Linked DNA regions of Homo sapiens. The protein of the gene in region 1 interacts with the protein of each later gene in a pairwise test. Each region holds a gene or a part of one and is shown in the gene's direction. Other genes may lie near its edges. The genes, in order: MAD1L1, USP15, SYT6 and CWF19L2.

What was found.
Region 2: the proteins of MAD1L1 (region 1) and USP15 interact in binary tests that used the Homo sapiens proteins (3 or more experiments, as listed by UniProt).
Region 3: the proteins of MAD1L1 (region 1) and SYT6 interact in binary tests that used the Homo sapiens proteins (3 or more experiments, as listed by UniProt).
Region 4: the proteins of MAD1L1 (region 1) and CWF19L2 interact in binary tests that used the Homo sapiens proteins (3 or more experiments, as listed by UniProt).

What each region holds. Positions count from the first base shown.
Region 1 is NC_000007.14:2,222,929-2,229,955, reverse strand, and holds part of MAD1L1 (mitotic spindle assembly checkpoint protein MAD1), read left to right. Parts: intron 1-4,405; coding exon 4,406-4,546; intron 4,547-7,027. UniProt on the Homo sapiens protein: Component of the spindle-assembly checkpoint that prevents the onset of anaphase until all chromosomes are properly aligned at the metaphase plate.
Region 2 is NC_000012.12:62,389,385-62,396,411, forward strand, and holds part of USP15 (ubiquitin carboxyl-terminal hydrolase 15), read left to right. Parts: intron 1-46; coding exon 47-130; intron 131-220; coding exon 221-315; intron 316-398; exon of another isoform or gene 399-412; coding exon 413-604; intron 605-1,479; coding exon 1,480-1,595; intron 1,596-1,772; coding exon 1,773-2,045; intron 2,046-2,431; coding exon 2,432-2,502; intron 2,503-2,871; exon of another isoform or gene 2,872-2,887; coding exon 2,888-3,003; intron 3,004-3,668; coding exon 3,669-3,818; intron 3,819-6,910; coding exon 6,911-7,014; intron 7,015-7,027. UniProt on the Homo sapiens protein: Hydrolase that removes conjugated ubiquitin from target proteins and regulates various pathways such as the TGF-beta receptor signaling, NF-kappa-B and RNF41/NRDP1-PRKN pathways.
Region 3 is NC_000001.11:114,143,858-114,150,884, reverse strand, and holds part of SYT6 (synaptotagmin-6), read left to right. Parts: intron 1-7,027.
Region 4 is NC_000011.10:107,447,808-107,454,834, reverse strand, and holds part of CWF19L2 (CWF19-like protein 2), read left to right. Parts: intron 1-262; coding exon 263-385; intron 386-7,027.

The sequences.
Region 1 (7,027 bases):
TGCTCTGGGGAGACCCTGGGCCCGGGCAGGACCTCTTCCAGTCTTCTGTAGTTGAGGTGGGTCGGTATTAGCAGAGCCTAGAGACAGCTATTCGTCTCCCAGGTCTCACTATGGGCACTCCTCATTTTGGGGTCGTAGCTGGAGGCTAGTTGGGGCCCTGAGCCATCCTGGCTTAAAGGCCTGCCTTGTTAGCGCCCTGAGTGGGCCTGGCGCTCAGCATTGCGTTCACACAAGTGCACTCACAGACCCTGGTGACAGGATCGGAAAGCCAGTTCATTCATCTAATTGAGGACAGAACCCAAACTGCCTGGGGGAGTGAGCACCAGGACTGTCGGGAAGGCTGTGTTGGAAACACAGTGCTGAGAGTGCCTGGGCAGCCCAGAGACAAAGCCACAGCAGTGAGCAGAAGGACTGGGTGTTTTGTGGTCTCAGACTGTGGAGGGCCATTTACAGATTTTGGGGTGATTTTTACAGTTTTCTTCTATAAAATAGTTGTATTTTGTTTCATTACAAGTTCTTGGGGTTTCTCACTGTAGACACAACTGCAGAGGATTCAGGCCTCCTGAAGGACTTCAGGCTCCAAAGAGTGATGAGCCCAGTCCCAGTTGGGGCTGCGATAATGGGGCCCCCAAGTTGTAGGGAGTGGTGGGGAGTGGAGTGCTGGCTAGTAGTGTCTCCAGCCTTGCCTGGGCCCTGTGGCTGCGCAGGCTCCTCTAGGCTCCTCTGCCTGGACCCTCTTTCCCAGTCCCTGCTGCGGTCCCCAGAGCCGTTCTGTAGTTCTGTCCGCATTAGAGGAGGCTCTGGCTTCCTGCGCTCTCAGAGCCCAGATGAGGCCCTGCTGCATTTGGTTAAACTGTGTGTGCGTGTGCATTTGTTTTGTTGCATAATTGAATTAATGTGTGTTTATTAGAATGCTAGCTTGTGGCCAGATGTGGTGGCTCAGGCCTGTAATCCCAGCACTTTGGGAGGCTGAGGTGGGCGGATCATGAGGTCAGGAGATCAAGATCATCCTGGCTAACACGGTGAAACCCTGTCTCTACTAAAAATACAAAAAATTAGCTGGGCGTGGCACCTGTAGTCCCAGCTACTCGGGAGGCTGGAGCAGGAGAATGGTGTGAACCCGGGAGTCAGAGCTTGCAGTGAGCTGAGATTGCGCCACCGCACTCCAGCCTGGGTGACAGAGTGAGACCCTGTCTCAAAAAAAAAAAAAGAATGCTAGTTGCTAGCTTGCTCACTGCCCTTTCTTGATGAGGACTGTTTTTTATTCTGAGATTAGGTCATATATATATATATGTGTGTGTGTATATATATAATATTTATGTAAATGTTCTTTTGTGAAATTATGAAGGTAATAGATGGTAGTTGTTTTTTATCACTGACAAAATGAGAAGTGGCCAACTCTGAGCTGGTTGCAGTGGCTCATGCCTATAACCCCAGCACTTTGGGAGGCTGAGGTGGCTGGATCACTTGAGGTCAGGAATTTGAGACCAGCCTGACCAACATGGTAAGACCTCATCTCTACTAAAAATACAAAAATTAGGCGGGTGTGGGCACCTGTAATCCCACCTACTCGGGAGGCTGAGGCAGGAGAATCGCTTGAACCTGGGAGGCGGAGGTTGCAGTGAGCCATCGCGCCACTGCACTCCAGCCCGGGTGACAGAGTTGGCAACTCTGGTCTGAAATGCTGTGATTTTAGTGTTGCGAATGTCTGGGACCTCTTGGCCTGTCTGTCAAAGCTGTGGGATTCTAGAGTCTGTCTTGGGGCTCGGAGGCCCCCAGTGCTCACTGGTAAAGGCCTCTCGGTGAGGGGATCAGTGATGGAGTGCGGTAGTCAGAGCAAGGTGGTGAGCGGAGTGATGGCGGCAAGACCAGCCTTGGTCCCTGGCCCCTGTCACATCCCATTCCTGGACTTCGTCGTGGTTCTCTCTCTCCTGCTGAGCCCCCGGCGTGGCAGGGAGGGCCTGGAGAACATGGCAGGCCGGGGGAATGTGTGCTGTCTGGTTTCTCACACATCGTGTTGATTTAACGTAAGGGTAAACTTTCAGGGTTCCTTTCTTTCCGTTGTAGTCAGCTCCAGGCAGAGGTGGCACACGGATCAGGTGTGTCTGGGACTCCTGGTCCCTGCCGGTCGTGCCCCCTGCAGGCGGGGTGCCCACCCTTCTCGAGAGGCTCAGGCTTGACTGCAGACACAGAAGTGAGACCAGGAAGGCTGCTGAGTTTGAAGGGCAGTCTTAGGAACGCCCAAACAGCAGCAGCTGAGAATCGAGACACAGTAACATAGGAGTAAAGGAAGTGTGGGCTTGGGCCACCAGAGAACACAGGTGGGAGGACAGAGAAACTTCCCTCCCCTGTCCCAGGCTTTCCTGGCCTTGGCACGCTTGGCATTTGGGCTGGGTAATTCTTTTTTCTCAGGACTTTCTTGTGCATTGTGGGCTGTTTAACAACTTCCCTGGCCTCTACCCCCTGGACGCCAGCCAGCAGCAGACACATGTGACCACCCCCCTGTGACAATCAGGTGTCTCCAGACAGGGCCAGATGTTCCCAGGGGCAAAACTGGACCCCACTGGGAACCACCACTCTACTCTGGTGCTTCTCAACCTTTCATGTGCATGTGAACGCCCTGAGAATGTGTCTAAAAAGAAGTTTCTTTTTTTCTTTTGGAGATAGGGTCTTACTCTGTCATCCAGGCTGGAGTGCAGTGGTACAATGTTGGCTCACTGCAGCCTCCGTCTCCTGGGTTCAAGTGATTCTCCCTCCTCAGCCTCCCGAGTAGCTGAGATTACAGGTGCGTTACCACCACACTCGGCTAATTTTCATAGTTTTGAGTAGAGACAGGGTTTCACCATGTTGGCCAGGCTGGTCTCAAACTCCTGACCTCAAGTTATGTACCCACCTTGGCCCCCCGAACTGCTGGGATTACAGACGTGAGCCACCACGCCTGGCCTAGATTCTTTTGTTTTTTTTTTTTTGAGACGAACTCTTGCCCTGTCATCCAGGCTGGAATGCAGTGGTGTGATCTTGGCTCACTGCAACCTTCGCCTCCTGGGTTCAAGCGATTCTCCTGCCTCAGCCTGAGTAGCTGGGGTTACAGGTGCGTACCACCACGACCAGCTAATTTTTGTATTTTTAGTAGAGACGGGGTTTCCCCATGTTGGCCAGGCTGGTCTTGAACTCCTGGCCTCAAGTGATCCACCCGCCTTGGCCTCTCAAAGTACTGGGATTACAGGTGTGAGCCACCACACCCAACCTAAAGAGAAGATTCTGACTGAGTAGGTCTGGGGTGTAGTCTGCGACTCTGCATTTGTTAAGTGCCGGGAGATGCTGCACTGCAAGGCTCTGGGCCACGTGAAGAGTCAGTGACTCTGCCTTTTCCTCCAGCTGAGCAGGTCGTACCCAAAGGCCGGCTCTGGAACTATTTGGCAAGTCTTCTGGGGCTCTTTGAGGCTCAGCTAACCTGTAATCACTAGCCCTGTGTGGTAGGCAGACTTCTGAGAGGGCCCCCAGGAGCTCAGCTCACCTGTAATCACTAGTCCTGTGTGGCAGGCAGACTTCTGAGAGGGCCCCCAGAGGCTCAGCTCACCTGTAATCACTAACCCTGTGTGGTAGGCAGGCTTCTGAGAGGGCCCCCAGATTCCAGGCTCCTTGTGCACACTCACCTTCCTACTGCCTCCCAGGTTTCAGTCCAATACTGAGTAGGTTTCATTGCTGTGGGATTGTGCAGATGTAATTAAGGTCTAAGATCTGTTGACCTTGAGATAGGGAGATTACGTGGGTGGGCTTGATCCACTCCCTGGTGGGCTTGATGTACTCACCTGAGCCCTTTAAGTCTGAGTCCAGACGTCCGAGGCCGAGCAGTCAAGAGACATAGCAGGAGAGGGATTTGATGAGGGAGATTGGACGTGGTTGACTTTGGAGATGGAGAGGGCCGTGTGGCAAGGGATGTGGGCAGCACCTAGGAGTTGATGGCTGTACTGGGCTGGCAGCCAGTCGGGAAGGAGACCTCATTCTCCATCTCTGAGCTCCACGTGAGAACATGTCCTGGCCGACTGCATTGATTTTTAGTCTGGGAGACCCTGGTCAGAGAATGCAGCCACCTACGTCTGGACTTCCGACCCACGGAGCCGTTGGCTGGTAAATAAATGGGTGGCATTCGAGGCCGTTGCCTTCACTAATATGCTTAATGTCATCTCAAAAGACGTCTTCCTCTTCCCAGGCTTTTTCACCTTCCCGTTTCCTGCCCCTCCCCTGTTCCCCAGCCTGGAGCCCAGTGGCTGGGCCACATCAAGACTTAGCACGGGACCTGCGGGAATGGGTCCTCAGGGAGTGTGTCTGCTGCACTGAGTCACTCACCTGGTTTGATGCCGTCACTGAGGATTCTGTTTTTCTTTGGGTGCGACCTGCTCAGCTGGAGGAAAGAGCAGAGCAGATCCGTTCGAAGTCCCACCTCATCCAGGTGGAGCGGGAGAAAATGCAGATGGAGCTGAGTCACAAGAGGGCTCGAGTGGAGCTGGAGAGAGCAGCCAGCACCAGTGCCAGGAACTACGAGGTGGGTTCAGGCGGGGCGAGGGTCGGCCCAGACAGCCCCAGGAAGCAAGGGGGCTGTGCACGGTACCTGCCAGGTTATAAGAAATCACATCCTAGTCCCTGGGAGCAAGGGGGCTGTGCATGGTACCTGCCAGGTCTTAAGAAATCAGATCCCAGTCCCTGGGAGCAAGGGGGCTGTGCACGGTACCTGCCAGGCCGTAGGAAATGAGAACCCAGCTGGCTGGAAGCCTGACACGCCCTGTGTCATGGTTGCCAGGACATTCCTTCTGAGGCCACTCATGCTGTGGGGCAGGTATCAGTTATGCTTGATGTCCTAGAGGAGGGTGGCATGAAATGGGAACACTTGCTGTGTCTGTTCATTGAGGCTGCGGTGCTGGCACAGATTCTTTTGCTGGGTCTCCTGGTTTCCTCTTCCCTCTGGAAGAATTGGAATGCAGGTCTGGCAGAAATGCCAAGTGGTGTAGGAGTGACAGGCTTAGGAGGTCATGGGGTGGATCAGGGTCTCGGGTCCATGCTGGGTCTTGGGGTTGGAGGGCCCTAGCAAAGGGTGCCGGTCTCAATGGCGGCTCTGTGTTGCTCCTGGCTCCCCAGGGCAGCAGGGAAAACACCCTGTCCTTGGGGAGGGAATTAGGTTTCCACTGAGTGCGCGGATCCCCTCTGCTCTGATTAACAGCACTTTGCCAGGGTTTCAGTCAGTGCTGATCAGTTGTGGAAATGCTGCCAAGGTTCAGGCAGAGTATTGGGCGGAAAGTCTCCCTGGCCTCCGTGCCCTCTCTTGGCGGGTGGATGTCCAGCCCCGCCCTGACATCATGCGGTGTATTCACACACTCTCCTGGGCCCTAGAAAAATAGCTCACGTCTTCCGGGGTGTGATGCTGGTTGGATTGCTTGCCCCTGGCCTGCAGATCCTGACTGCGGTGTGCGTTGTGTGGGCTCAGTGAGACTGAGGCACCGCTGGGGTGGGGGCCACTGCCTCAGGGTTGGCTCCGTTGCTGCTTTGAGAGCTGTTTTCCCTGAGAGGTGGGGCGTTTGCTCATGGCCTGGGTGGGTCCTAGGAGGGACAGTACTGGAGGAATTGGTGGGAAGGGGAGGGAGAGTCCACAGGAGTCTCCCTAACTACTGAGATTCCCTTGTTAGGGGTGGAGAGGAGCCACCAGGTCATTGGTCTGGAGGCAGCATGCTGATGGTATGGCTGTGGCTGTCAGGCAGGAGGGACAGTGTGCAGCTGTTGGAGTTCCTCTAGGCCGAGAGTCCCTGAGGGCAGGGCCCACCCGACTCTGCCCAGGATCTCCATTGTGTGGCACAGCTTATGGCATTTTATGGGTGCTCACAAATGTTGGATTGAGGGAGGGGTCATTGTAGGGTCTCCGGGAACCCTGTCTTGGGGAAATCCAAGGATGCAGGTGACTGGGCTTACACCTGGGGCTCCCTGCTGAGCTCCAGCCACCTTCTAACAGGACTGTCCTTCCTTGCCCGCAGACACAGCTGCATGGGACCCCAGGAACAGTCAGAACCAGTAGTTTTCCAATTGTTCCTTGGAGTTCCACCTGGAAATACCTATTAGGGGCGAGACTTAAGTGTCTGAAGTCCAAAGACCTGCTGGCTGCCCTGTCTGCGCTGGGACTGGCAGTTCCAGGCCCGGTGCCGCATCTGGCTGTGATGGTGCTGAGCGGAGCCCCGTGCCAACCCCAGTTCTTGTCCTGCATCACAGAAGGGTCTCTTGGTTGTTGTGAGGCAGCCCTTGCAGCTCACAAGGGCTGGAGTCCCTCCGAGGTGCGCGGGTCAGCCTCTCTCAGAAGGCGGCCACCTCTGTCACAGCTCTCCTGGGTTTTGGGCTGGAGTACCCTGGATGAGGACAGCACAAGCTCGTACTCCACCCGGGGCTCCGGGAGTGCTTGGTGCTTCCCGAGGAAGGCAGGGTGAGAGGGTCCCGGAGTGCCGGGCTCCACCAGGACTCACCGCCTTCACCTCCTGGGACGCCGGTACCTGGCAGTGAACTCTGGAGGGCCTGCGGGTCATTAGAGTCAGGAGGTCTGAGCGTGGTGCTTGGTCATGTCCCATCCCAACCAGTGAGAGCCACGCGGCCTCCCTAAGGCCAGTCGTGGGGGGTGGGTCTGGAGGTTTGTGGTTTGTGTGAGAGGGGGTGCATGTGTGGCAGATTTGAGCCCAGTGTAAACTGCTTCTGCCCACAGCCTCCTGTCCACGCTGCCTGTCTCTGCCCCTGTTGTCTGCTCGCTGGGGGAGTGCCAGCTCCTTTCAGTGCCGGACAGAGCGTAATTAGACAGGATTTGCTGGTGCTATGAAAGCTCAGCTTCTCCCCAAGGTCAATGCTGAATTTTAGATTTCCCATGCCCCCTCTCCCTGCAGAGGCAACTGCTGAGCAGACGGTGTGATAAATGTGTGTGTGATCTGTGCCAAGTGCCCTTCCTGGGAGCCCTGACCTCGCACAGTGCTCACCGTCATGGTGCCACAGCGGGGGTGCC
Region 2 (7,027 bases), on another chromosome or scaffold:
TTTTTTCCAAAATAATAAATTCATTACAATTTTTTTTGTTTTTTAGTACAAAGTGGTTGTCCCCAAAATTGGAAACATATTAGATCTTTGTACAGCATTGTCTGCTTTGTCAGGAATACCTGCAGATAAGGTAAGATGTTTCTGGGGTTGAAGTATATAAGTTGGTATTTAGTTTCTCAGTGCTGTAAAACCAGCTTAATAGAAATTCGTTTCCTTTTAGATGATAGTTACTGATATATACAATCATAGATTTCACAGAATATTCGCTATGGATGAAAACCTTAGTAGTATTATGGAACGGGATGATATTTATGTGTAAGTATAAAACTCATTGTGCAAAATATTACTTGAAAAAAAATTAATAGAAGTAACATAAAATTTTGAGAGTTTATGGTCAGTTTTGTCCTTGTAGGTTTGAAATTAACATCAATAGGACAGAAGATACAGAGCACGTGATTATTCCTGTTTGCCTAAGAGAAAAATTCAGACACTCGAGTTATACCCACCATACTGGTTCTTCACTTTTTGGTCAGCCCTTTCTTATGGCTGTACCACGAAACAATACTGAAGACAAACTTTATAATCTCCTGCTCTTGAGAATGTGGTAAGTGCCAGACAATTCTACATTGACAAAATAAATATGGGAATAAAATATAAAATAGCTAATAAAAATAAACACATAAGGTACTATTGGAATATAATTATTCAAGTCTGTATTATCTCAATTTTGTTCATAGTCAGATTATAGTCCTAATCCACTTTCTTATTCATGTAAAACATATTATGGAGGTAATTTCAAACCCAGGAAGCACGAAGTCTGTAGCAGTTTTAAACCAAAAGTTTACAGTTAGAAGGACATAGGAATTTATGTTATAATAATTATGTGTTACATGTTCATTCTGTGAAATCATAACAAATGTCAAATGCCATATGTTTGCACTGTGAAATAACAAATGTCAAATGCTTCATTTCTTTATATACATTACCAGTTCATGATTAATAGTATTGTAAGGCAGCCTATTTTTTGCCTTCCTGAATAAATCCCTTGATTTGAATTATGAAGTTATCAAGAATGTCATTTGATCCCTTTTATCCTTGAAAGCTGGTATATTTAGTATTCTTTCTTGCATATCTAATTATTATAGTTTCATAACCCATATATAAAGATCACATTATACAAATATAAGTGTTTTTAGCAACAATATATACCATCTAAATAGGGTAAGTTGAGAAATTATTTGCAACAAACATTTAACATTTAACCTAAAAGGTAACATATTAATTATTTTTATAAAGATGAGCAAAACAAATTACTAGTCAGTTATACTTATGGTACTAAAAGTTTGAATTTATCTTTGAATCTACTAAGTGACCACTGTTACTGCATTAAAAAGTTTTGTTTTACTGATAGAAGGAAAACTTTTTAAAAGTTTTTATCTTTGTAGTACTGAACTTGTTTGATTTTTGATTTTACTTAAGCCGATATGTCAAAATATCTACTGAAACTGAAGAAACTGAAGGATCCCTACACTGCTGTAAGGACCAAAATATTAATGGGAATGGCCCAAATGGCATACATGAAGAAGGCTCACCAAGTAAGACTTTTCTGTTAAATTGTACAAATGTTTCACTTAGATAATTGCCTCAGAGAAAAAGTTAAGAAAATGGGAATTAAAGAACTAAAAAATACCTGGAAACCTAGGATTAATAATATTAATAATTTAAAAATATAGCATTGGGTTTATTTAAAGCTCTCTAATATCTAAAATTAGGTGAAATGGAAACAGATGAGCCAGATGATGAATCCAGCCAGGATCAAGAACTTCCCTCAGAGAATGAAAACAGTCAGTCTGAAGATTCAGTTGGAGGAGATAATGATTCTGAAAATGGATTATGTACTGAGGATACTTGCAAAGGTCAACTCACGGGACACAAAAAACGATTGTTTACATTCCAGTTCAACAACTTAGGCAATACTGATATCAACTACATCAAAGATGATACCAGGCATATAAGATTTGATGATAGGCAGCTTAGGCTAGATGGTAAGTATTTGTGAAAAATGGCTTGAACATTAAACAAGCCGAGCATGTTATTTTTTTTTTAGGTGAAAACCATGAAATTCAGCTCTGTCAAGAAATATACCATTTACTTTTCTATCTCAAATTTTACATGAAAGGACTTAATATCTAAGTAGACTAAAATGTGTGTTTGTGTTTCATAAATGGAGATTGAACTCATGCTTCAGTTTTCTATCTTTTTTTAAACTCTTAAATTATTTCAATGGCTTGGAAACTGCTGTTTGCCCTAATCACCAGTACAAGTAGAAAAGATTGCTGTTTGTTTATTCTGGTGTATATCCTAACATTAAAATATACTTTAATACTAAGACATATTAAATTTTAAAGAAAAAATATGTTTTCCACCTTAGAAAGATCTTTTCTTGCTTTGGATTGGGATCCTGATTTGAAAAAAAGATATTTTGATGAAAATGCTGCTGAGGTAAGTCATCACTCACTCACTTATTTACCTTTCCTTGATTTACTTTATGTGATTACCAGAGATAATCATACTGTTGTGTTACACTCTTTGCTTCCACCAAATATGTTTATTTTGCCAGTAAAAAATTGGTCATGAACTAGAAAAAAAAGTCTTTGCAAAAATACCTTTTTTTTTTAAAGGTTCAGAGTTCATTTTGAACGTGTTTTGGTCATCCATATAGAAGTGTACAGGAATTATTTAGAAGTATATAAATCTCAACTGAAATAAGCTTTATGATTCTTTTGAGAAAGTTTAGGAGTTTTCATTATTATTCATAGTAAGATGGTATCACTAAAATGAGTTTTGTTTCATTTGTTCTCTTAACTCAAGAAATACTTCTCTTTAGGACTTTGAAAAACATGAAAGTGTGGAGTATAAACCTCCTAAAAAACCCTTTGTGAAATTAAAAGATTGCATTGAACTTTTTACAACAAAAGAAAAGCTAGGTGCTGAAGATCCCTGGTAAGAGACAAAATTAAATAATTGTTTTTGTTTTCTTTAAGGATTTATTCTGAGATATGTGCCACATCAAGTTGAAAAAGTAATTACTAAATTCTCTTTGATGTTTTAAATAGTAAAGGATTCTTTATATAAGTTGTAGCCTATTAAGAGGGATGGGAATGTCTTAAAAAATACGATTACAGTGTTGCCTTAATTTTATTACTGTGTTTTTCATAATAGCCATTATACTATTAATTCATTTTAGTTACCTTTTTTCCAAGAAATTTTAGCTATGTAATCATTTTGAGAGAAGCTTTTTAGGAAAAATGTAGTGATATATTTTGTGGTGTTATTCCATTAGAGCCCAGATTTGAGATTTTCTAATACCTGTCTTCCAGCACAGATTTGTGACCTATGTCTTTTTTGCATACTAAAAGAGAAATAATCTAGCCCTCATTATGTCTTTAAGTATTTATTTGTATATTAATTTGTAATGGTTTAACCTATTTGGAAAATGTCTTGAAAATAAAAATAATAAGAGTTGCTTTCAACCTGGTACATATTAGGCATACTATAATTGCCCACTGAATAAATGTAGAACTTTCCAAACATTTTTGTTTATTATTTTCATTAATGGGGGTTGTTTGTACCTCTATCAAGTGTTAAATACTTCTGTTTATTCTTAGGTATTGTCCGAATTGTAAAGAACATCAGCAAGCCACAAAGAAATTGGATTTATGGTCCCTGCCTCCAGTACTTGTAGTACATCTCAAGCGATTTTCTTACAGTCGATACATGAGAGACAAGTTGGATACCTTAGTTGATTTTCCTATCAAGTAAGCTTTAATTGTACTTTATAAGCATTGGGCAACTCTTCTTTCAAACTTATTTGATGCTTTTTGTTATTATCCTTTAGTAAACATCAGGTGCCATTGGACCCAATTTCAGCTTTCAAGTTTGTTTTTGAGTAGTTCTAACAGTTTATAAGGATCAGTGTTTCAAAATTTTTATTTTTTCTTAGAGATTTTCCAAAGATCAAAGAGAAAATATACTTTAAAAAAATAAAAACAATAAAAATCCTTCTGTGTTATATTACCTATGGGTTAATTGGTCTCATTTATAAATCTAAGATACTTTATGGTACTTAGTGATTTTGTTTATCCTAGGAATTACTTCATCATTACTCATCACTTACTCCTAAATATGTTGGGGTTTTTTGGTGTTTCTTTTGTTTGTTTTTTGAGACAGGGTCTCACTCTGTTGCCCAGGCTGGAGTGCAATGGTGCAATCTCGGCTCACTGCAACCTCCACCTCCTGGATTCAGGTGATTCTCCTGCCTCAGCCTTCCAAGTAACTGGGATTATAGCCACCCGCCATCATGCCCGGCTAATTTTTAGTACAGACGAGGTTTCACCATATTGACCAGGCTGGTCTCGAACTCCTGACCTCAAGTGATCCACCCGCCTTGGCCTCCCAAAGTGCTGGGATTACAGGCATGAGCCACTGTGCCCAGCCCTAAATATGCTGTTTTCAAAAAGACTAAAATAAAACAACAATGGAATTGCTTAGAAGGATAACACAGTAGTGAAATAAATCATCCCTATTGCATTATCCTTCAGTTTTCCTATTGCCATTATATGACATCATATTTGTAAAAAGATATATCTATGGCCATACCACCTTGAACGTACCCTGATCTTGTCTGTAAAAAGATACAAAGAAGTCTGTATACATCTTCACACTTTATCTCTCTTTTTTTCTTCCCCTGCTTTTAACAGTTGAGAATTCAGAATGACAAAAAGGGAACATTGTATTCCCCGTCACTTAGTTATTCAGCAGAAGGACTTCATCACACAATATTTTGTACAAGTACTTGGTACTATCCCATTTTGCAAAAAGAACTTTCAGCGGTATTATTTCATATCCTGTGATATTTGTACACCAAAATGTACTTGATACAGTTAGTAAGTAGACAATTGCTAAAGGCAGGTGTATCTATAAAGGTAACTAGAAGGAAATAGATTACATAAAACAAAATATTCACTGGATTACTCATTCTAATTGGTGGCTATAAATTTAAAATTTAAAATTATTTGTAATTATTGAGTGAAAAAAAGATCATTTTCTCTTTAACAAAATAGTGAGCCATAAGTTTTCAAGAATATAGCATTTGGCAATGTAAGTATAAGAAAAAGAATCAGGGCTGGGCACAGTGGCTCACGCCTGTAATCCCAGCACTTTGGGAGGCCGAGGTGGGTGGATCACAAGGTCAGGAGAGCAAGACTATCCTAGCCAACGTGGTGAAACCCCATCTCTACCAAAATTCAAAAACATTAGCCGGGCATGGTTGTGCGCGCCTGTAGTCCCAGCTACTCGGGAGGCTAAGGCAGGGGAATCGCTTGAACCCAGGAGGCGGAGATTTCAGTGAGCTGAGATCGCGCCACTGCACTCCAGGCTGCCTGGCGACAGAGCGAGACTCCCTCTCAAAAAAAAAAAAAAAGAATCAGAAGTAATGACAAACTAGAATCTATCAGAGATGTATTTAAAATTTAGAATCATTATTGCTTTTTAATGATGCAAATACAAGAAGAACAACCAGAAATAATAATAAGCTATTTACAAGAAGTCGTTTTCCAGGTTCTTGAATGATAGATTTTGATTAGTCAGTTACATTCAAAGGATGTTGCCCATTTCGGGTATATAGGTCATCAAAGACAGCAAATGTAGAATAAAAATTAAGGTTTGATATATTAATATTTTTTAAAACTTCTAAGGAAGTTTTCACTATTCCTGTATTTTTCTTCATATAAATCACTTCCTCTTTTTTAATCTCTGACCCTGCCCATAAATTACTTTCTAAAATTGACTGTAAAATAAAGATCTACTGGACCCAGATGGTCAATAGTGATGACTGTTTTTCCTGGTATACTGAGAGTTAAATGTGTTAGCATGAAAACGTTTATCTGAATGACAACATTCCACATTTTTATTTTATTTTATTTTTTTATTTTTGTGGGTACATAGTAGGTGTATATATTTGTGGGGTACATGAGATGTTTTGATGGAGTGTGAAATAGTCACATTATGGAGAATGGGGTATCCATCCTCTCAAGCGTTTATCGTTTGTGTTATAATCCAGTCACACTCTTAGTTATTTTTAAATGTATAATTAAGTTATTATTGACTATAGTCACCCTGTTGTGTGATCAAATAGTATGTTTTATTCATTCGTTTTTTTTTTTAACCCGTTAACCATCCCCACCTTACATCTCCCCTACCTTCCCACCACACTTGTCATCCTCTAGTAATCATCCTTCTACTCTGTCTGTCTATGAGCTCAATTTTTTTTTATTTTTAGATCCCACAAATGAGAACATGGGATGTTTGTCTTTCTGTGCCTGGCTTATTTGATTTAACATAATCTCCAGTTCCATCCATGTTGTTGGAAATGGCAGGATCTCATTCCTTTTTATAGCTGAATAGTACTTCATTGTGTATATGTACCAGATTTTCTTTAGCCATTTATCTGTTGATAGACACTTAGTTCCATCAACATTGCAACACATAGTTTCGTCAAATCAACAAGATTTGGTTGTTTCCAAATGTTAGCTGTTGTGACCATTGCTGCGACAAACATGGGGAGTGCAGATATCTCTTCAGTATACTCAATGAAGCATTTTAAAATTTTCAACCCATAAACAAATGTTTGCCAAAACATTAATATCTCAGAGGTACATGTATGATTTGTTTTGTAAGTTATTTGACTCATGATAATTTCCTTAGTGAGATATATATATATATAGATAGATATATATAGATGGATAGATATAGATATATATATGTATGTCAAACAACAATGGCAGAAGGGAATAGAATTCATTGCATTTAGGGACAACATAAAAATTAACTTGGTTTCTTTTTTAAACAGTGACTTGGATATGTCGGAATTCTTAATTAATCCAAATGCAGGTCCTTGCCGCTATAATCTGATTGCTGTTTCCAACCACTATGGAGGGATGGGAGGAGGACACTGTAAGTTGACAGT
Region 3 (7,027 bases), on another chromosome or scaffold:
CTGTGCTAGGAATTGCACAGGAAGTCTCAGTTAATCAGACCCTGACTTGGAAACACCTGTACACAAACTGTCCAAACTAAAAGCAAGTTTCCCCTTTTTCTTTAAAAACTCTGAAGCCATAGGCCTGCTATTCTCCTTAATACACCCCAAGTGAACACTAATAAGCAGTTCTCCACCTTTCATTGTGTCATTTGCCTTGTAGAAATGAATGAACTTTTTCCATAAGCCAAGCTGCAGAGGTTTAGGTATGGTCAGCATGGGTTCTGGACTTAAGGTAGCAAGCAGAGGTCCAGAAGTGCTCCAGCAAATGCAGAAACCTGACAGGAGACCTCAAGCTTCCCTGTTTTTCTTAGGCTGGCAGCCGGGAGTGGTTAACTCCAGTTTACTTGTGGCCATGAAATTTATGTGATGTTTGTCCTTCTCACTGGAAGGATGGAATTCTGCAGATTTTGCCCTTTTTGAGGAAAGGTACAATGCACAATCCTTTAGAACCCAAGGAGATGATATTCTGACTAGTGTGTTTTGAGCTTTAGAGTTCTAGAAGCAGGGTCCAGTATCTAAGAGTTGTAGAGCCCTTAGATTTATAGTTCTAGAAGTTTTCTTCTCCCTCTGACTTTGATGAGAACGTCAAGTAGGGATGGTGGTTTCAGTATGTGTCATCCCTCTAAGCTCTGTACAAAAGACATGTTCTCTTCTAACTGTCTGAAGTTTATCTTCCCTGTCCACAGAGTTAGGGGTATAACATGTGGCTGCAAATAGTGAGGAGTGGCATTGAGGCATCTGGATCAAACCAGGTTTCTTTATGGTCTGTATAGGGTTGTCTGGAGTGGGGAAAGCATGCTAAGACAAAGTTCCGACTAAACTGGGTGGCACCCTTTCTATTCTTGCTTAGGAAAAGAAGCCTCTAAGGACTGAGTCACACTTAGGAACTGAAATCAGAGGAGTCTCTGAAAGTAGAAATAAACAGGGGCATCCAGATCTGGACCCTCCAAGTATAATGACACAACCTCATCCCTCCCTTCTTTCTTCTAGGAGCACTGAACTCTTTCTTGCTCCCCGAGGACCCAGGCAGACCCCTCCTCTCACTAGTTGCAGGTACAAACAGGGAGAGAAGCATAGAGGGAAAAGAATTTCTGGCTGTCTGCCCTCCACCTCCATCACTCCAGCCTTGATCCCACATTCAGAAGGGCCACATGCCCTGACCCCTCAAGCAGAAAGGTACAGTTACCATCCACCAAACTAATAATATTAATAATTGTTAAATTAGTGCCAATGTTCTGTTAGCTGTAACACTCCACATTAGTCTCCGATTTAGCTCTGAATCCCCTAATGATGGTGGAAGTGAGCGCCCAGTCATAAAGCTTGGTGCGGCCGTAATTAGCTTGGCATTGTCTCTCCTCATCACAGCTTTTTCAGGAGCATTAATTCCTTCTCTGTTTGGACTCTGCTAATTATCCCCATTGGTAGCTCAGTCTGGATCTCTGAAAGAAGCAAAGGAAGCAAAAGCCCTCTGCTCCCCTCCCCCCAGCCCTGAATTTTAATTACACCGGTTCTCCTAATAAACTTACAAGCCCTGGCAGAGCTTATTATTAATTATTAATGGGCCACGTCTGAGCCTCAGTACAGAATAGCTCTGTTCTCCCAACACACACACACACACACACACAATCTCTCTCTCTCTCTCTCTCTCAGATATTCCTCAGGTACACCTTTTCCAGAGGCCACTGGTTACTTGCCTGGTGGCTGGTGGGCAACCTGAAGTGTCAGCTTTCCAGGGAAGAAGATGGGGCAGGTGGTCACCAGGCTGGTCATAATCTGAGTCTCTGGGGCTCTGTCCAGGTTCATAGGGTCAGGCCAAAAAGTGGGAGTATCCCTCCCATCCTCTCCTGAGTACAACTAAGAAATGCCTGCCCCCACTCCAACTTCTCTGTCCAGCCTGGGACTCCACAGCTCAATCTGTAGTCCTCCCAGATACGTGATTCAAGAGCCCAGATTTGGGCATCAGCAAGTCCTAGGTTCAAATCCCAGCTCTTCTCCTTAATGCACTGTACCCTTGAACAAGTTACCTGGTTAACATCTCTATGCTTAGTTTCTTTATCTTTAAGGGTGTATACCAATTTCTTAGGGAGGCTAGAAAGGTTAAATTAGATAATGTAAAGGGCATAATGCTCACTATGTATTAATAAATAAATAAATAAATAAATAAATAAATAAATGATATTATTAGTATTTTATGAGTGGTTCTGCCCAGAATCTCTTCTCTTCCCAGGCTAAACGCTCTTCTTCCAAGCTCCTGGGCCTCTGCGTCACTTGCTCCCTGGCCTCTGGGCTGTGCTTTGTCTATGTCTCTGTCTGTGTCTGCACGAGAGCTCCTTGGCCGAGGCAGCTCCTGCTCTCCCCAGCCTGAGCACTGACCGTTTCTGAGGGTCCACCACCAATTCCAGGCCCTGAAGCCAGCCTTCTCTGGCTTTGGGGTGAGTAGGGAAAATGGTTCTTTCTTTTTGCTTCCTCTTCCCAGTTTATCTCTTCAATTACAATCTGTTAGCAAGAACGCCTGTTACTGTTACAAAATGGATTTTTCTGATGTGGGAGCCCATTAGAAAAATGGGAACAATAGCAAGCAATAAGAATTGCTGATGAATTCTAACACTATGGGTGGAGAAGAGGGGAGGGGGCACTAGGGCTGTCTTTGGAGAAAGAAGTGTCAGTGGGGGAAGATAAGAAAGCCCTGAGCTGCTATTTAATAACCCAGCATTTTCTGGAAGAGGAGGGAGACCATGGGCCATCACCCCAACCAGACAGTCTCATTTAAGGTGACAAGCAGATCCTATCCTGATGGCCTTGAAGGGGATCTCAACTTCCCAGGAGAGAAGAGGGGCCTGACGTCCCTCAGATTCTTTGTCCTCTGATCTGGAGTCTCCCTTCCCTGCCTCAAAGACTTAGCTTAGCTTTGTGTCTGTTCTGTATACACAGTCAACTGTTATCCTCCACCAAAAAACAAAACATGAAGAATAACAGCAGCTTACATTTTGGGGACATTCACTGTGTACCAGGGCCTGTGCTCAAAGTCTTAGCTTATTTAATATTCACAATGATTCTGCAAAGTAGGAATAATTCGAATCCTGACTAAATAAAAGAGAAAACTAAGATTTGGACAGGTTAAATAACTTGCTCAAGGTCACGCAATTAGAAAGCAATGAAGATGATACATGCTGTGCTGTCGGTCATTCTGGCACTGCCGCCCACCTGAGATGTCCATCCTGTGTCTGAGCACCTGTGAGTTCAGTTTCACAGCCAGGGCTAGAAGCCATGTGCCCCTGTACAAGGCTATGTCACTGGGGTGTGATCCCAAAGCCTAGTTCCATAGCTGTTTTCTCTCCCATGAGACTGCTGGAGAGTTGGCTACTATGGTTTACCAAATCAGGTGCCCATGAAATACTAGAGCTCCTCTGATGCCTGAATGAAAACATTTTACAATGAATATTGAGCAATAGGCTTCTTTTCCCCAAATTTCAAGAAATTTTTCAAGAACATAGGATGTTCTCAATTATAGGTTTTTCTTCCATGATCTTCTTCTTACTTCTTTGGAATTCATTCCTGTTCACCAGCTGGCTGGTGATGGTAACAACAAAACAACTGAGGAGGCAGCAAGCAAATGAGTATTAGCAGGAAAAGCCTGGAGATGTGTGATCTGAACCATAGTTTGTGTTACGTCTCAAGATACAGACGGACCTGGCTATGTCCAAAACCATTATATTATTTCTGCTAGTAAGATTGTTCTTGGTTTGTAAAGACAAGGTTAAAGCTATCTCTGTTGATTAATGTTCAATGGTTTTCAGGTGTTCTGCCCATTAAACAAATTTCAAAACTAAGGACTGTTTCAAATTGGGCTGGGCATAACTAATTCTAATAAAAATAGGTGATATTTATTATATTGCTTATTACATCTTAGGCACTATCCTCAACAGTTTTGGTCTCATTTAAACCTCACAATGACCCTAAAGGTAGATACTATTATTACCCCCAATTTATAGATGAGGAAACTGAGGCTGAGAAGTGTTACATAGTTTGCCAAGGTCACAGTTTAAAACTAGTAGAGGTAGACTGTTAGTGAGGCCAGTCTGACTTCAGGGCAATGCTTCCTTCTCTCTAAGCTGAAGAAGAAGTAAAGAAGAAGACAGGGAAGAAGCATCCAAATACCTAGGAGGTACTTTCTCTTTTTCAGTGCTGGGCTGAGCCCTCTCTCCCTTACTGGAGGCTTACTTCTAGCTTTTCCTGAAGTGAACGTGTGGTGTAAATTGGAAGAGCACTGGATCAGGACTCAGAAACTGGCAGAGTTGCCCATCAAAGTTCTAGCTGCCTCAAGGGGTCAAAGTTCAAACAAGATGTGAATGGGAAAAGGGTTTTGAAGGCTATTTGTGCACCTGTGATTTCCTAGGGGACATGTCCCAGTGGGTTGGCCCCAGCAAGCCCAGAGTGGGAAGGCATACAGCTTAGGTTATCTGGGCCTTTATGCAGCCCTTAGGCTGTACAGAAGCCTACAGCCCTTTCTAATCTCAATGTAACTTAAACTAGGAGATGAGGGATGTCTGAGTTCAAGGCCACATACAGTGATTTTAAATGAGCTGAATCTTCTACAGTCACCTCCTCCCTGCTGCCTGCTTCTGGTCTTACTAGCCTTGCTCACCAACCTTGCATCTCCTGTGAAGACAAACCCACTCAGTGTTTGAGACCTAATTCTCCTTGCACTGCCTGCCAGTGAGATGTCAAAAGCCCAGGCTCCTCTAGTCCTGCAATAAGATTCTTCAGGCATAGGACGGGCCTCCTGGTCTCATATAACCAGTATTGAGTGCTGGGTGCTGATTCCAAAAAACCATGCCCTCTGCCTCCCCTAATCACAGCTCTGAGGGAACAGCAGCTGGGGGTCACATGGAGAGGCAATCTAAATAGCAACCACACCAAGGAAAACCTCATTGTCCTGCCCCACCCCCTTCTCCTACCTCTCTTTTCATTTACGAATTCAATTATTTGTCAGGCTGAACATTTAAATGCACTCTATGCTCTCTAGATTCCCCCTACTCCCCTTCTCATTAAAATTCTAATTATTACCAGAACAAGTAAGATGTATGATCAAAGGAAAGCAAAGCCCTAGAAACACCTTTTGTTTTGAGGTGACTCATATTGCAGAGAATGCATCCAGAACAGCTGTAACAGAGAACAGATGTGAAGGGCTAGAGATGGCCAGATATGTAGAATAAGGACACATATAGCTGTGGTGACTTCCCTGGTGAGCCCACTAGGATAAAGACCTGAAGAAAGAGTCTCCAAATTATTTAGATCATGAACTCATAACAGGTTAAAAAAAAAAAAAAAAAAAAAAAACTTAATACCTCCAATATATGTTTTTTTGTTCCCAAGTTACATACATGTTCCACAGAGGTGATACTTCAGAACCAGACTGGCTGGGTTGTAGCCCAGTTTCACCACCCACTAGTTGTGTGACCTGGGAAATCTATTTAACCTTCTGTGCCTCAGTTTCCACATCTGCAAAATGAGGATAATAATCATACCTTTTTCATTGGAGAGGATTAAATGAGTGAATAGATATAAAGCTCTTTGAACCTTAGACATAGTAATGTTGAATAAATTGCCTAAATCTAATAACATGCTATTATTCCTATCAACCTGTATATTAAAAATTTGATTTCTTTTAAAGATTATAAATATTAAAATGGCTTGGTTTTTTTCTCTTGTGTCCACCTGCCCCGAGCTTCACCCCATTGGAGACACCACCACATTGGAGACCTTTAGTATAGAAGTTGACTTAGAATGAGCTTTCCCGGTGTCTGGCAGTCTCCAGGTGAAGGACTACCTCCAGCTCCTTTGGCCAGGGAAAGGCTCTAATGTCCCTGTGCAGGGAGCCAGGTGTTGGGAAGGCTTGGGAAGGGGGTGGTGGTAGGTGGCTCAGGACTTGAGGATTCTCTGCTATTATTACCTATTCTCGGAGGTGATAACTGATCTAGGCAAGTAACTTGCAGCAAAGGAATCAAAAGGCAGTGCTGGCTTCCCAGAGAGAGTGGCTGATATCCTCAACTCCTTCTTGGCCCCTGATGTGGGATCTCTTTCCCTGGAGCCTATGTGCTGTGGGAGTACCTGGATCCCCTTAGCAGGGGACTGGGCATTCAAGCCTTGCTCAGAACTTGGCACATGGCAAGTACTCAGTAAATGTTGCTTGACCTTAATTGAAATGAGAGCTAATTACAGCCTTCTCATACATCATTCTTTCAGTCACTCATTCATTCCATGTGCCAGTTTCTATGTGAGGCCCTGAATCAGACAAAGAGGAAAAACACGTGTCATAGTAGCCTACAGTTTAACCAGAGACAGACAGGTCAGGGCAGAGGAAAGAGTGCCAGCCTGGGTGGTGGACATCTGGACCCTAGTCCAGGTTCTGTGTCTGACCAACCTGTGACTCCAAGCAAGTCCCTTCTGTGAACCACTGCTGCCATCTTTAAAGGCACAGCCTGGCCTCACTACTTGTGGGGTCATTTCTTACCTTAAATAGTAAGATTTTTAAGGCATTTGGACAGGCTAATACAGAGGCTTCAAACTTACAAGCTTTCAGGGGCCAGACAGGGAACAGGAAGTGGAGGGTTGAGCTGGTGAGGACATATCCTTACAAAGAGAGTCACCAGTTCCCACCATGTGGGAGCCCATGTTCAATTACCAAGTCATTGGTCTTTTCCAGTGAATTCAGAAGTCTGGGGTGACGATGATGATGGAATTTCTTAACGTTTCAATCATTAAGCAAGCCAAACAAAACTCTTCTGCTAGTTTGTCCACAGTAACCTTTTTGCAAACCCTGCAAAGTATGCCCTTGGTTCAGAGCCTTCTAACTTCTCTACTCCGAGCAAGAAGAGGCCTTGGGCTCAAAGGTTCATTCCCAAATTTGGAGAGGGAAGTGGGATGGGAGGTCTGCTTAATAATTTCTCACAAAGAGGGGCATCCCTCATAGGGGCATACCCCT
Region 4 (7,027 bases), on another chromosome or scaffold:
TTAATCTACAAATAAAGCCAAAATTTTCCCAGTATTTTTCTGGTAAGAAGTCTCAGTTATATGATTTATTGATAGTGCATATATTATAGAAGGTGTGTTAAGATTTCCTGAAAGATTTTATTTATTTAGACATATTCTTGGTCTTATTTCATCAGAGATTGAAAGTTTTTTAGAATGTGGTTTATTTTTTTTCTCTCAGAATACATCCTTTTAAATTAAGATGAAATTAAATTATTTTCTTGCCTGTTCAAAATGATTGTAGGAACACTCTGTGAAGAAAAAGAAGAAAAAAGACAAGCATTCAAAAAAAGCAAAGAAAGAAAAGAAAAAAAAGAGCAAGAAACAGAAATATGAAAAAAACAATGAGTCATCTGATAGCTCATCAGTAAGTATGTACTAAAATTAATCAAAGCAGCTATTTGAGAACATTTTATTTGAATGTGTAACTTATGGGAAGTTAAAATACAAGAAAACGTAAAAAATATATTACTAGTTATGATATGAAAATATCTGGGATACATCTACTTAGAGATGTCCAGAAAATATTGGAAATGTTGATCTTGAATTTCAGAGAAAGGCTAAGAGGATAGGGATATGATTTGGGAATTATTGCTAAGCACAGCACTGGATCTTGCCCAAGGCCTGCTGTAACAATTACCTGGCTACAGCTGGTGTTCACTCAAGGCCCTGGGGCTCTGCAATCAGCAGGTGATGAAGCCAGCCAGGCCTGCGTCTTTCCCTTCAGGGTGGCAAGTTCCCCCAGGCCTGAGGGTGGGTCCAGAGGTGCCATCAGGGACCCAGGTACTGGCGTCAAAAACCTTAGACTTGTACCTGGTGTTCTATTGAACTGTGGCTGAGCTGGCATTCAACCTATGAATGGCAGTCCTTCCCACTCTTCCCTTTTCACAGGCAGAGGGGCCTCACCCTGTAGCCACCACCATAGACCCACAGGTAGTACTGGCAGGCTACCACTGATGTTCCCTTAAGGCCCAAGAACTCTTCAGTCAGCTGCCCGGCCTGGGACTCACCCTTCAGGGCAGTGGGCACCCCCTGGGCCAGGGCAGATCCAGAAATGCTATCCAAGAGCCAAGGCGTGGGGCTGGAGACCCCAAGATCCCTCTTGGTGTTCTACCACCCTGTGGCTGAGCTGGTACCTAAGGCGCAAGACAGAGCCCCCTTTACTTTTCTCAAGCAGAAGGAGGCTCTCCCCATAGCCACCACAGCTGGGAATGTGCTGAGTCTCACCTGAATCCAGCAAGTCTCAGATACACAGTGAAGGCCACAGTGTAGTACCCGATTATTGGTGCTGGTTATTCAGGGCCTAAGGGCTCTTTAGTGGTTACCAGCTATGGCTGAGCTGGTATTCAAGATGCAAGATGGAGTCCTGTATTTACTCTTCTCTCTCCTCTCCTCAAGCAGAAGGACAGGGTCTCTTTTGGAGCTGCACATTGTGCAGCCTTGGGTTGGGGGAGAGGTGGTGTAAGCACTCCCTTAGCTGCACCAGTTGCCCCCCAACCACCTGTCCATTGGCTCTGAGGCAAGTTTAGCACTAGGAGTCACCAAGGAATTCCACATCCTTGCTAGTACTTGGTATTGTCAGTCTTAGTAATTTTTAGCTATTCTACTGTGTAATGTCTCGTGTGATATTTCTCTGAAGAACAAGGATGTAGAGCATCATTTTAAGTCCCCATAGGGCATTCCATGTCTTTGTGAAATCTGATTTATTAAATATTTTCTTTTTTGTTTTTCATCATTTTTTCTTAGTGCTTCTGGTATCCTAATTTTTGCGCACCTCAAGATTGTGATTTCTCCTATGTTTATGTTATTATTAAATTTTTTTGTTTTTTGTTTGTTTTTAGAGATGGAGCCTCACTATGTTGCACAGACTGGAGTGCAGTGGCACCATCATGGCTCATTGCAGCCTCAAACTCCTGGGCTCAAGCAATCCTGCTGCCTTAGCAGCCCAATTAGCTATGACTACAGATGTAGTACAGAAAAGTTGTTTTTGTAGACATGGAGTCTTACTATATTGTCGAGGCTGGTCTCGAACTCCTGGGCTCTAGTGATCTCCTGCCTCAGCCTTCCAAAGTGCTGGGATTACGGGTGTGAGCCACCATGCTTGGCCTCCTATTTTTTTTCCCTAGAAGTTTTATAGCTTTGGCTTTTTTGCTTATTTATAATCCATTAATAATTTTTATTTATGTTGTGTAGTGTCAGTTTATTTTTTTCCCACGTGGATTTCCAGTTTTTCTAGCATCATTTGTTGAAAAGGCTGAATTTTCCCTATTGGAAGGAATTTAGGGAGATAGATATGTTAAAATATTCTTTCAATCCATTATGCACTTGGTACATCTCTCTATCCATTTATGTCTTTGATTTTTCTCACAATGTTCTGAAATTTTTAGTGTAGAGATCTTACATGTCGTTTGTTATTTTTTTTCCATTTTGTTTTCTGGAAGTGCTATCGTGAGTGGAATTTTAAATTAAATGTGTTTACAGCTAGTATGTAATTATAGAAGTGACTTGAAACATTAGGATCAGAAAAAAAAGAAAAAAGTGAAAAAAAACCTGCTTTTGATATATTCACCTTGCCTCTTATCACCATGTTAAAATTACTAATACTAGTGTTAGTAGCTTTTTTAGTAGATTTCTTAGGATTTCTAGGTAAATGGTATGTCATGTGTGAAAAAGACTTTTACTTTTTTCTTTTCAGTCTCTGTGCCTGTTTTATTTGTTAATTGTTGTTGCCTTATTTCAGTAGCTAGGACTTAAAAATAGTGTTGAATGGAAGTGGTGAGAGTGGACATGATTGCCTTTTTCCTTATCTTAGGTGCAAAGCATTCAGGTTTTTACATTTAAGCATGATGTCTGCTGTGGGACTTTCATGTATGCCTTTTCAGATTAAGGAAATGACATTTTATTTCTAGTTTTCTGAGAGTTTGTATCTTGAATGAGTATTGAATTTGGTAAGTGCTTTTTTTGCATCTATAAGTGTTAAAATTTGCCAGTGAAACGGTTTGGTCCTGGAGTTTCTTTGTGGAATGGGTTTAACGACAGAGTTAATTCCTTTAATAGTTGTGTTAAATACTTTCTGTTTATTCTTGAGTTAGTTTTAGTAATTTCGGTTTTTCTGGGAATTTATTCCATAGAAATTGTCAAATTTATTGTCATAAAGTTATTTGTAATATTTCCTTTGTTCTTTTAATGTTTACGGAATCCATAGTGATACCCCTCTTTCATCCCTGATTTTGGTAATTTCTATTTTCTGTTTGTTTCCTCTGTCAGTCTGTCTTGAGGCTTATCAGTTTTATTAATCTTTCTTTATTGCCTTTTAGTTTCCTTGAATTTTCTCTGGTTGTGTGTTTTCTATTTCATTGATTTAAACTATATTTATTCTTTGCGAATACTTTGTGTTTAATTTGCTCTTCTTTTTCTAACTTTCTAAGATGAATGTATCGCCACTGATTTGAAATCTTTTCTAACGTGTATTTATTTTATAAAATTTTCTCATAGCACTGTTGTATCTCTACGTAACTTTGATGTTATATTTTCATTGCTGTCCCATTCAAAATATTTTTTACTTTACTTTTTCTTACTCATGGATATATAAGAGTTTTTAAACTTGCAGATATTTGTGGATTTTTCTAGTTTTTTTTTGGGTTATTGACTTTGATTTTAATTATTATGTTATACTCTGTATAATTTCAGTTTTTAAAAAGTTTTTGAGACATTTTATTTTCTAGCCTATGATCTATTTTGGTGAAAATTCCATATGTATTTGAAATGAGTATGTATTCTGCCATTGTTAGGTATAGTGTTTTATAAATGTCAATTAGGGAAAGTTGACTAATAGTATTAAGTTTAGTGTTAATGATTTTCTGTTCACCTGTTCAGTCAGTTACTGAGAAAATAGTATTGAAATCTCTTAATTGTTTTGTGGATTTTACCTATTTCTGCTTTCAGTTTTGTCAGTTTTTGCCTTATGTAATTTTGAAGCTTTATTAGGTACATAGACAGCTCCTTGATGAACTGACTGTTGTTACGAAGTTTTCGTTTTTATCTTTGGTAATACTCTTGTCTGAAGTCTCTTGTATCTCATATTAATAAAGCCTCTTCAGTTTTCTTTTTTTGTGTGTTTTCATCGTCTTTTTAAAATTCTTTTAGTTTTAATGTACCTTTTTTATATATTGAAAGTGTATTTCTTGTAAGCAGTGTATAATTGGGTCTTGCTTTTTTATCTCGCCTATCAATTTCTTCTTTTTTATTTTATTGATTGATTGATTTATTGATTGATTGACAGAGTCTTGCTTTGTTGCCCAGGCTAGAGTGTAGTAGATCACTGCAGCTTCAACCCCTGGGGCTCAAGTGACTCTCCCACCTCAGCCTCTTGAAAGCTGGGACTACGGGTGTGCACTTCGACGTCCAGGATATATATATATGAGTTTTTAAATTTCCAGATATTTGTGGATTTTATTAGGTTTTTTTGGTTATTGACTTTGGATTTAATTATTATTTTATTGTACTCTGTATAATTTCAGTTGTTAAAAAGTTTTTGAGACATTTTATATTCTAGCCTATGATCTATATATATTTTGTAGAGATGTGGTTTTGCCATGTTGCCCAGCCTGGTCTCAAAGTCTTGACCTTAAGCAATCCTCCCACCTGGGACTCCCAAAGTGCTGGAATTACAAATGTGAGCCACTGCATCTGGCCTCTTCCTTTTTTTTTTTTTTCTTGAGATGGAGTCTCACACTGTCACCCAGGCTGGAGTGCAGTGCCGCAATCTTGGCTCACGTCTCTTACTTTTCAATTAGATGTTTTTTGTGCTCTCTAATCTGTTAGCTGTTTATGGCTTTTAAATTTTTTGTTAAAATTCATTAAAATTATATCAGCCAAATTTATGTGGCTACTATATTCGACAGTATATAGAAAAATTCTTTGAATAGTACTGGTTTGGATTATTTATGTTTAATGTAATAATTGATATGGATGAGTTTAAGTCTACCATGTTGTTATTCCTTTTCTATTTTTTCTTTGTTCTTTTTTCCTTTGTTCCTTCCTTTTCCTGTCTTTTGGATCGAGTGTTTTTTAGCATCCCATTTCATCTGCTGTAGGCTTATTAGGTATACCTTATTTATTTTTAATGACTGCTTTAAGTCTTATGCATATTTTAACTTACCATACTCTCAAATAATATATAATTTTACTTTTATAATTAGACTTTCACCAAAATATACTTCCATTTTCTCCTACCATATTTTTTGCTATTGTTGTCATATATTTTACTTCTACATATGTTATAAACCCACATTGTTTATAATTTTTAATGTCATACATTCTTTTTATTTATACTTTAGTCAGTTATCTTTTAAATAAGTTACACATATGAAGAAAGTCTTTTATATTTACCCACAGATTTATCATCTCTGATATTCTTTATTATTTTATGTAGGTCTGAATTTCTGTCTAATACCATTTTCCTTTTGTCTGTAGAACTTTCATTAACATGTATTATAATATGGATTTGCAGACATTGTATTCTCTCAGCTTTTGTTTGAAAATTTCTTTTATTTCATCTTCATTCTTTTTTTCTTTTACCACAAACTCAGAAGTTCCTACTAGCAATCTTCATTTTTCAGATACTTGGCTAGATAAAGAATTTTAAGTTTATAGTGTTTTCTTTTTTTTTTTTTTTTTGCACTGTAAAATGTCATCCCATTGTCTTCTGGTTTGCATTGTACATATTGAGAACTCTGTAGTCATTGTAATATTTTTTCTCTGTATGTAGTGTGCCTTTTTATTCTGGATGCTTTTAGGGCTTTTTTTTTCATCATTATTTTTCAGTGAATCAATTGTGATATGTCTTGGTATTGATTTCTTTGTGTTTATTCTACTGTCTTAGTTCATTTGGGCTGCTATACCAAAACTAACTGGGTGGATTATAAATGACAGAAACTTATTTCTCACAGTTTGGGAGGCTAGAAAGTCTAAGATCGAGGCGCTGGTAGACTTTGTGTCTGATGAGGGTTCAGTTCCTCAGAGATGGCTGTCTTCTCACTCTAACCTCATATGGCAGAAGGGAGTGCTCTTGGGCTATGTTTTATAAGGGCACTAATCCCATTCCCAGTCATCTCCCAAAGGCCTCAGCCCCTATTATCATTGTCTTGGGAGTCAGGATCTCAACATAAGAATTTGGTGGGGGACACAAACATTCAGAGTGTAGCATCTGCCTTAGGTTCATTGTGCTGCTTTGATTTGTGAGTTTACAGTTTCCATCAAATATGAAACTTTCAGGCTTTTTTCGAAGTATTTTTTTTTTCTGTTCCCTCTCATTTTGGTAGTCTCCTTAAAATAATGTCTCACAGGTTGATGAGCCTGTGTTCACTTACTTTCTAGCCTTTTTCCTTTCTATGCCTTGGGTTGGGTATATTTTATTGCTATGTCGTGAGCTTCAGGTTTACTGGCCTTTTTTTTTTTTTTTTTTTTTTTTTGTGACGGAGTCTCGCTCTGTTGCCAGGCGGGAGTGCAGTGGCGTGATCTCAGCTCACTGCAACCTCCGCCTCCTGGGTTGAAGTGATTCTCGTCCCTCAGCCTCCTGAGTAGTTGGGATTACAGGTGCTCATCACCACGTCCAGCTAATTGTTTGTATTTTTAGTGGAGATGGGGTTTCACCATGTTGGCCAGGATGGTCTGGATCTCCTGACCTCGTGATCTGCCTGCCTCAGCCTCCCAAAGTGCTGGGATTACAGGTGTGAGCCACTGCGCCTGGCCGACTGGCCTTTTCTTTTGCTGTGTCTAGCTTACTGTTATCCCTATCCAGTGACATTTTCATTTCAGGTACTGTATTTTTTTTTTATCATTAGATGTTTCGTTTGGATCTTTCTAATGTTTTTCAGTTTATCTCCTCATTATCTTTACATTTTCCCTTCCTTGAACATATTTATGATAGCTGTGTTAAAGTCTTGGTTTGCTGTTTCATTTTCTCTTGTTTTTTCCTGTTCTGTTTCAATTAAATGATTTTTCTCTT